Regions from separate parts of the Homo sapiens genome. Here region 1 is linked to region 2. Evidence: fine-mapped expression QTL. A gene starts in region 2. The other region holds a variant in brackets. All regions are shown on one strand. Distances are between the middles of the regions.

The links. PIP is the estimated chance that this variant, and not a neighbour inherited with it, causes the effect. A credible set is the group of variants that fine-mapping cannot tell apart.
Region 1: its variant is the best candidate, but not a certain one, in a credible set for the expression of NHIP in tibial artery (GTEx, PIP 0.86).

Annotation. Positions count from the first base shown.
Region 1 is chr22:49,029,946-49,034,333 of GRCh38, reverse strand. No RefSeq gene overlaps it. Among named protein-coding and RNA genes, the nearest start is that of NHIP, 20 kb to the left of the region's middle. The variant C/T (reference allele first, on the strand shown) is at 1,941.
Region 2 is chr22:49,050,171-49,054,558 of GRCh38, reverse strand. NHIP (neuronal hypoxia inducible, placenta associated) reads left to right here and starts at 2,174. Exons shown (of 4, transcript NR_183584.1): 1 at 2,174-4,203; 2 at 4,356-4,388. RefSeq lists an enhancer at 2,128-2,207.

The sequences.
Region 1 (4,388 bases), 20 kb after region 2:
ATGAGCCACCGCACCAGGCCATAGTTGTTTTCATTGTGATTTAAATGAAACTTCAAGCTCTTAATCCCATAGTCCTGTAACAGGATATCTGCGGTGAGGATGCTGCTCTCTGCCCCCTGCAAACTCTAGAACACCGTGAGGCCCCCACCTGCTTCCATGTGAGAGGAGCTGGAGGTGGAGGACGTCAACTGAGAAACGTCCCATTTTAGGATTTTATGCACATTTTGAAGTTAAGTACAGAATTGAGCTGAATGACAGCCAGACAGGGAAGCCACTCCTGGGCAGAAGGAAGCTGCAGACTGGAAATGGAGAACATTCCAGAAACTGGCAAGGCTGCCCTGGAGCAGGGCTGGGGGCATCTCACTCATGAATCTCACACCCACTACAGAAAGAAGTACCTCATGGAGCCACCAGCACTGAGGGCCCTAGGGCAAGGGTTGGGGACGGAAGGACTCCACCTGGCACGGTGGACTCAGAACAACGGCGTCTCAAGTAGGGTGTGTGCAGCTTGGAGCTGGAGCTCTTCCATGCCACCACTGACCTGGAGCTGGGCAGCTGCTGTCATGTGCAGCCTCACGATGCCTGTGTAACGCGGAGGCAGGAAGCATCACTCCTGTCTTTAGGAGCAAAGGAAGGAGCTCAGGGTGGGCACACGACCCACCCAGCATCGCAGAGCCCATGAGTGTCCTCTGAGACTGAAGATTTCAAAACTGGCCACGATGTCTCTGGGTCGGTGGTGGGCTCCTGTCTGTGAGATCCAGCATCTTACACTTCACACCCCAAGTTTCAGGGGAGAAGGGCGGAAAGAGATGCCTCTCTTAGGGAAACCAGGGAGAGAGGGGTGAAGACGGCCACCATCACCAAGTGTACTGCGTGTCCACCTATCCACATACGTCGACTAATTACCCCCAACTAAATACGGATTATTGCGTCTGTTCCACAGAAGATAAAACTAAGGACCAAAGAGGCTCCCCAAAGTCCCACGGCCCCCCAGAGGGTGCGGGCCGGGTGGGAATTTAAACTGGTCTTTCTGTCTCCAGGGCTGGAGCCAGGCTCTGAAGCTGCCTTGCCCCCTCCAACCTTGTTCCTTTTGGGAGTTGGTCTCCCTCCAAGCACGCTGATCTCTCCCCTCCTTTCAGGAGGCCAGTCCTACCAGCCCCCCGCACACAGCGGACTCGGTGCTGCCAGACCGCAGCACACAGACTCCCCAGAAATGTCTTTCCCAGGCCCAGATACTTGATTTCACCACGTGGCCCTCAGCGGAGGCTGCGTTCCTGCTCAGCCTCTGCCTTTTGGCTGCAGGGCAGCCTGGCGAGCGTGGTCTCCACCAAGCACTTCCCTGTACCTCAGCAGCCGACAGTGGCATTTGGGGACCTTGTTTCTGGGGAGCCTGTGGCAATGCGTCTCTCCTGTCTCAGGGACACACCAGCCGTCTTCCTCTGAGGCCCCTGGGGCAGGTCACACCGCTCAGTGGGTCCGCCCGGCAATGGCAAGTCTGTGTCCTCTGCCGGCCCGGGGTGTCTGATGTCCGGGAGAGGACTTGGGAGAAGAGTCTTTTGTTAGCAAAAGGTCACAGGGACGCTCACCTTTGCAGTGCACCAAGAAGACAAAGGCTGTCCTCGGCATCCGGAGCATCCGTATAATTCATGCCCACAGCAGGGATTGAGCCTTCTGAAAAATGCAAACTCACGGCTCCAAACTGCTGGCTGAGGATCATGGGATGAGGAGGCAGGGAGAGTTTACTGAGATTCCGGGCATTTTCTAAACTCCCTGCTCTGCAGTGCTGTGGGGGGACGCAGGATTCTCCTGCTCTGCTGGCAGGGGTGGCCCAGCTGTGCGTACCAGGAGCCCGGCAGCCTGCTCCATCTGCCTGCTCACTTGCTACGGGGCGTCCCCGGCCTCCCTGCCCCTGCTAACACGCTGCTGGTGGTCCCAGCACC[C/T]TCCGGCCTGGACTCACTTCCCTCCATGCCCGGCTCTCCAGGGGGCTCCTACGCACCCTCCCTGGCTCAGGTCCAGGGCAGAGACCCCAGTGAAGTCTCCAAGGTGGCCCTGCTTTCCCTCCTCCTTCAGAACTGCTCCCACCCGCCTGCAGGCCCCAGGCATCTTCTCCCATGGAGGCTACTGCTCTGCTCCACACCCACCCCGGCTCCCATATGCAAGCCCAGGGAAGCATCTGCCTAGGGATCAAGCTGAATCCACTGCCTATGTGTGGCATGGAGGCCCATGTGCCCACCCCTCTGATGGGCACTGCCAAGGGGTCCATGGAGAAGAGGCAGAGTCCCTGTCCAGGGCCCTAAGCCTTCATTGAGGGAAGAGGCCCCCGAGGCATCAGGCATCAAGGCAGCAGGCAGACCTACCCCCTCGGATGGCTGCATGGACACCAGGGCAGGGGGTGACTGGGGCCTCGAGGGCTGGAGCAGGGAAGGCTTCATGGAGGAGGGGGTATTTGGATACACCTTGGTGAATGGGGAAGAGTTGATGGGGAGAAAGGTAGAGGGAAGACAGGGAGGAAGGAAAAGTGGAGGGCATGACGGTGGGAAGGGCTGGGCATCCATGCTGACAGCTGGAGGGGGAAGGAGAAACATGGCTTTAGAATTGGGTGAGGGGCACCCTGACCCCACTCATCCCCCAGATGGCCACCCCTCTGGGGCTTCTGAGTCCAAGGGAATGTGTCTGTTTAATATTAATAGACATTTTCCATTTATTTCCAAAGAAAGGCTGCAAATCTAATTGTCACCATCAATGTCAGGAGCTCTTGTTGCCTTGTATTTCCCCTGACAATTATTTTAAGCATTGCCAATCAAATATGTGAAAGACAGCAAGTCAATCAGACACATAATTATTCATAAAAATGAGTTTGAACTTCTATCAACAGTTCCTCTTCTTTAAATTGCCTATTTACACCCCTCATTAATTTTGCATTTTGCTGTTAGAACGTGTCCTGTTTGTTTCTGTGCATGCCTTGCCTATGGTGGACATTTGACTTTGGGGTTTCTGAACTTGCTCCCGGGCCCTTCCTTCAGCAAGAGCCAGACCAGCCTCACTTTCAACACCTGTGAAGTTGTGGGGTGCTCGGACCTTGATTGCCTGTCTACCGCCTGTGATGACTGTATTCCCTGGGGTGTGTGTGACATTCATACACACCCATGTGCACACACATACATGTATGTGCACACACCAAAGGCATTGAATGCCTTGATGTCTAGGATGTGAATTTCAGAGAGCCTGGGCCAGCATTTCCGGGAAGGGTTGGCATCTGTGAAGATCACAGTTACAAACACACTTGAGAGGTCTCTTCTCAGCTGGCTTCTGAATTTTCATCTTCTCATGCTTTTAGTAACGGCACAGAGTAAGCATATTACACTAGCAAAGTGTGACTCTTAGGATGACTGGATATAAAACGACCAAAAAGAAACCATTTTTTTTTCTACACTAGCAGCAAACAGTTAGACATGGAACTGGATAATAATCTCCCATTCAAAAATGGCAGCATAAGCCATACACACTGCAGGGAACTAAATGAAAAAGGCACAGATCTCATAAGAAGAAAAATATGAAATGGTGCTGATAGCCTAAGAGAAAGACCTGAATGAATAGAAAGAAATTTGGGATTACTAGGAAAACTTGACACTATAAAAATATGATTTCTCTTCAGTATTTTATTACTTAATCTAACTATGAAAAGAAAGCAATCCCAAATAGAATCGGAGCGGAGTTTTCTTTGATATGGTACAGATAATGTTAAAATTCACCTAAAGGAACAGCCAGCTCTTTATCTGAAAATATTTTTTTAAAGAGCTAACAGTGAGGGGGCACTCACCTTATTAGATAAAAAGCTCAATACAGAGCAGCTTTGGCCCAGGGATCAATGACTAGATGCCTAGAACAAGTCATAGAAATATCTAGCTGGGTGTGGTGGCTCACACCTCTAGCACTTTGGGAGGCCAAGGCAGGAGGATCACTTGAGCCCAGGAGTTTCAGACCAGCCTGGGCAACATGGAGAAACCCTGTCTCCACAAAAAGTTAAATTATCCGGGTGTGGTGGTGTGTACCTGTAGTCCCAGCTACTCAGGAGGCTGAGGTGAGAGGATCTCTTGAGCCTGGGAGGTTGAGGCTACAGTGAGCCATCACTGCACCACACTGCTCCAGCCTGAGAGACAAAGCAAGACCCCGTCTAAGAGAAAATCTAGGTCCATTTTGTTATGGAAACTCAGCTAATTGTGGTTTCTTAATCTTATGGAGAAAGGATAATTTATTTTATTGGTATTAACCTAACTGACCACTTGGAATTAAAAAAATGTTTCTTCCTCATGCCTAATTATAATGAGTTCAACGCTGATCAACTATCTATGAAAGTAAAACATTAAAAAGTCTTAGAAGAAAATGTA
Region 2 (4,388 bases):
ACAGACCCAAAATTAGTAGCGAAGGATTCTTGTCAAGATAATTAATAAGTTTTCTATAATAGCTGCTTCAAATCTGTGAACCTAAGAATCAAGCATTCATGAGACATTTAGAAAAATTCCAACAATTACTAAAAAAATAAGTATTTATGGACTACATTCTCTGAACTCCACATATCGAAATTAGAAATAATGAGAAAAACAGCCCCATAAATATGGAACCATAAAAACCTATTTCTGAAGGAATCGTAAATCAAGGAAGATTACAATCAAAATTTGAAAATATTTGAAACACAATGACCACATAAATGCTGCATATTGAGACTTCTGGAGTGAATGCAGAGAATGCTTCACCTAGGAAGGGTCAGCAAACTGTCTCTGTGGAGGGGCAGGTAGTAGTGTGCTTGAGGCCTATTGCAAAGCAGGTGACTAGCAAAACTGTCTTGTGGAGGGGCAGGTAGTAGCATGCTTGAGACCTACTGCAAAGCAGGTGACTCTGGTTAACAATAATGTGTTGTATATTTCAAAATAACTAAGAGAATCAATGGATATATTAATTGGCTTTAATTAATCACTCCATGTTTTGCACATACATCCAAATACCACATGGCATTTCACAAGTGCAGATGATGATCATTTCCCATTTAAAAATATTATTACTAATATTTTTTACAAACAAAAATAAAAATATATTTGGCTTTGTGGGATAGTCTCTGTTGCATCTCCTCTTCTCTGCTGGATTGGTCAGAAAGCGAACACAGGCAGTATGAAAATGAAGAGGTGTGGCTCTGTTCCCGTAAGCTACGGTTAGCAGAAATCCCTCATTTACATGAAAATGTGTCACCTTTAACATATGTAGGAAGTAAGAAAAACTTTAAAATAAAGCTTGACTTAAAACATCAGAGAATAACAGAATAAACCTAAAGAAGCTAATGAATAGAAAATCTATAATTATGTCCTTAAATTCATAAAAACAGACACCAAGAAATAACAGAGAGGACCACTGTCTTATTCTGTTTTCTGCTGCTGTAATGAAATGCCACCGGCTGGGTAATTTATAAAGAAATGAGATTTATTTCATTCGCAGTTCTGGAGACTACAAAGTCCAGGACAATGGTGCTGGCATCTGGCAAAGGTCATCCCATGGGAGAAGGATGGAGGGCAGGAGCCAGGGCCTGAGTCCGAGCAGGAGAGGCCAGGCTCACTTTAGAAACCCCACTCTTGAGGTAACAAACCCACTCTCTCGATAATGACATTAATCTGTTTATGAGGGTGGAAGCCTGATATGGTTTGGCCGTGTCCTCACCCAAATCTCATCTTGAATTGTAGCTCCCATAATCCCCATGTGTCATGGGAGGGAGCCAGTGGGAGGTAACTAAATCATGGGGGTGGTTTTCCCCCAGGCTATTCTGACAGTACTTTCTCACGAGATCTGATGGTGGTTTTTTTTTTTTTTTTTTTTTTTTTGAGATGGAGTCTCGCTCTGTTGCCCAGGCTGGAGTGCAGTGGCACGATCTCGGCTCACTGCAACCTCTGCCTTCTGGGTTCAAGCGATTCTTCTGCCTCAGCCTCCTGCCTGGACTGGTATAGACACAAATGTGCTAACACTGAGTCTGAAAACACTTCCTTGGATCTTGGATCTAAACTCTCACTGCTTCTCTTCTGATTATAAACCATTTCACAGCCCCCGGCAGTTCAGAAGGCCCTGAGCCCAGGCGGGAACTCAGACTGAATTGCGATGTCATTCAGGCATTAAAAGCACGCATGGGCTCAGAGTGCTGCTTGCTTGACGTTTCCCGTCTGTGAAGCAATTTTATTTAAATTCTACGCAAAATAGAACCCTTTGCTCTTCTTCCCAGAGTCCTGCCCGGTGGGAAGTTCGCTGGAGGCGCAGCAGGGAGCAGCCTGGCTTTTCCTACGGGGTCATTAGAAGCCTCGCTGGGAGAATTTCCCAAATATTTTGCTGTTTGCTCAAACACACTTTTATATTTTGAATCCAGGCATTTGAGAGAGAAATCTGTAGCGTCTGAAGCATGGGTCTGTGGTTCTCAGCGGAACACACGGTCCCAAAAGGCCCTTCCCAAGATGGCCGGGGCTTCCGCCTGCCGCCCTCCCTCCCGTGGTGCTGAGCGCAGGCTGGGCGCGGCCACATCACCCTAAGGGCGTGGGTGTCGGAGTCTTGCAGGCTGGGGTCCCAGGTGAGAGATGCCAGCAGGGAGCTCTAGATGGGGAACTGGGTGAGCCTGGCTCGGTAAGGGCGTGCTCAGAACACCCCATCCCCGAACACGGTCTTGTGTGATAAAATGTCACGCAAGAAGAATCTGAAACCGCGAGAAGAGGAGGACACGGCCAGACTGCACCGAACCCCGGCACCTCTGTGGGGAAAAGCAGGTCAGGCTGAGCGGGGCCGGCGGGGACACGCGCTCCTGGGCTTCTCCAGAGTCTGCCGGGGCCGGGCCCGGGACCGAGGCTGGGACGCGCTGTGCAGTCCCACCCCTCACACCCCTCGCACGCCTGGAAACACCCTCGGGGTAACACAAGCCGGGGTTGAGTTTCTTGAAGAGAAGCTGGCTGCATCCTGGAGCCAGGGAAAGAGGAGCACAGGGGCCAAGCGGTCCAGGGCCACGGAGGAGCAGGACCCCTGGGGAAAGGCCCGGGTCTAGGCCGGGGCCAGGGGACCGTGGTGGAGACCTCAAAAATGGCAGAACACGGAAGCAGGGCGAGAAAAGTAAACGTAGTCCTTGCGGCAGTTTGAAATACACGCGGGTAAACGCTGGGTGACTCCGCCCGGATGCAGAGTGGGGGTCTGTGTCTCTCCCCACAGGCTGCAGGGACCGGGCTCTGGGTAACCAGCAGAAGGTAACAGAACGAGGCTGCTTTTCCTCCAGGCTGTTCTGGTGTCCGCGCGTGGCTTGTGCGCTGACTCCTGACTTGGAGCGCCGCGTGGCCAGAGAAATCTGGGTGCCTCCAGGCCACCATGGTGAGAGGAGAGGCCACCGCACGAACGGAAGAAGCGATGGAGACGGTCTTTACGACCTAAGAACAGAAAGAGTTTCTTATACACAATCCGAAAAGTAAAAATTGATTGATTGATTGATTGAGATGGAATCCCACTCTGTCGTCCAGGTTAGAGTGCAATGGCTTGATCTCGGCTCATTGCAACCTCCGCCTCCCGGGTTCAAGCGATTCTCCTGCCTCAGTCTCCCGAGTAGCTGGGATTATAGGCGCCCGCCACCACGACTGGCTAATTTTTATATTTTTAGTAGAGACGCAGTTTCACCGTGTTGACCAGGCTGGTCTTGAACCCCTGACCTCAGGTGATCCGCCTGCCTCGGTCTCCCAAAGTGCTGGGATTACAGGCGTGAGCCACCGTGCTGGGCCAAAAATCAATTTTAAAACGACCACATGAAAAATAAATCTCCTGTATCACAGAGCATGTTCTGAGGAAAATGAAAGCCACAGATCCAGAAGATATTTGTGACACATATGAAAAACAAAAACTCATATTCAAAACATACACAGCATTGCTATGAATCATTAAGAAAAATGATTTCGTCTCCTCTACAGGAGCCTGAGTGAAGGACAAGGACAGATCATTATAAACCAGGGAGCTTGAAGAGCTAGTTAACAAGCACAGAAAATATGTTCCCCCACACTGTTAATCAAGAAAATTAAAACTGTAATGAGATGCCGCATTGTATCCATGGGATTTCTAAAAGTACAAAGTTCCACAATACCCGTTGTTGACGGAGCAGGGAAACCGCAGGAGCCTGCAGGAGATGAGATTGTAAATGTGCAAGGACATTTTGGAGAAGAGTTGACAACATCTCACTCACGTGTATCAAGCCAAGTGCCGAAAGAAGAATTGGTTGTCATAAAGAAAACAGAAACCCAGAATGGATGTAGCTTATCCCTCCGATGGAAAGTTACAAAGAAGTTAAAATGAATGGGCTGCATCTCTGTGTAACAATTTGGATCAATATCAAAGACACATTTGTTAAAGCAAGGTGTACAATGAAACCTGCAACATGATTTGTCTGTTTAGTAAAACACAGAAAATCTAACTCCGCCTGGCTTACGAACACACACATGTGTTAGAATTTGGGAAAAGGAAAGGGAGGGAGGCCGGCTACACGTGAACTTTTGGAAAATCTCAGAGGGTCTGGGGCACCAGGTGGAGACCATGGCAGCCTTCAGGGATATGAGGTGAGTCCTTCAACTACATTTGCAAGGTTTTATTTCTTAGGAAAATATTTAAAGCAAATATTTCAAAAATGACTAAATCTGAGTGGTAGGGAGTCACTGTTTTATAGATTATTCACTTTTCCCTGGGCTTGGAATGTTTCGTTTTTTCAAAGGTCAAATGAGATGCTGCCTTTCCACCAGATAAA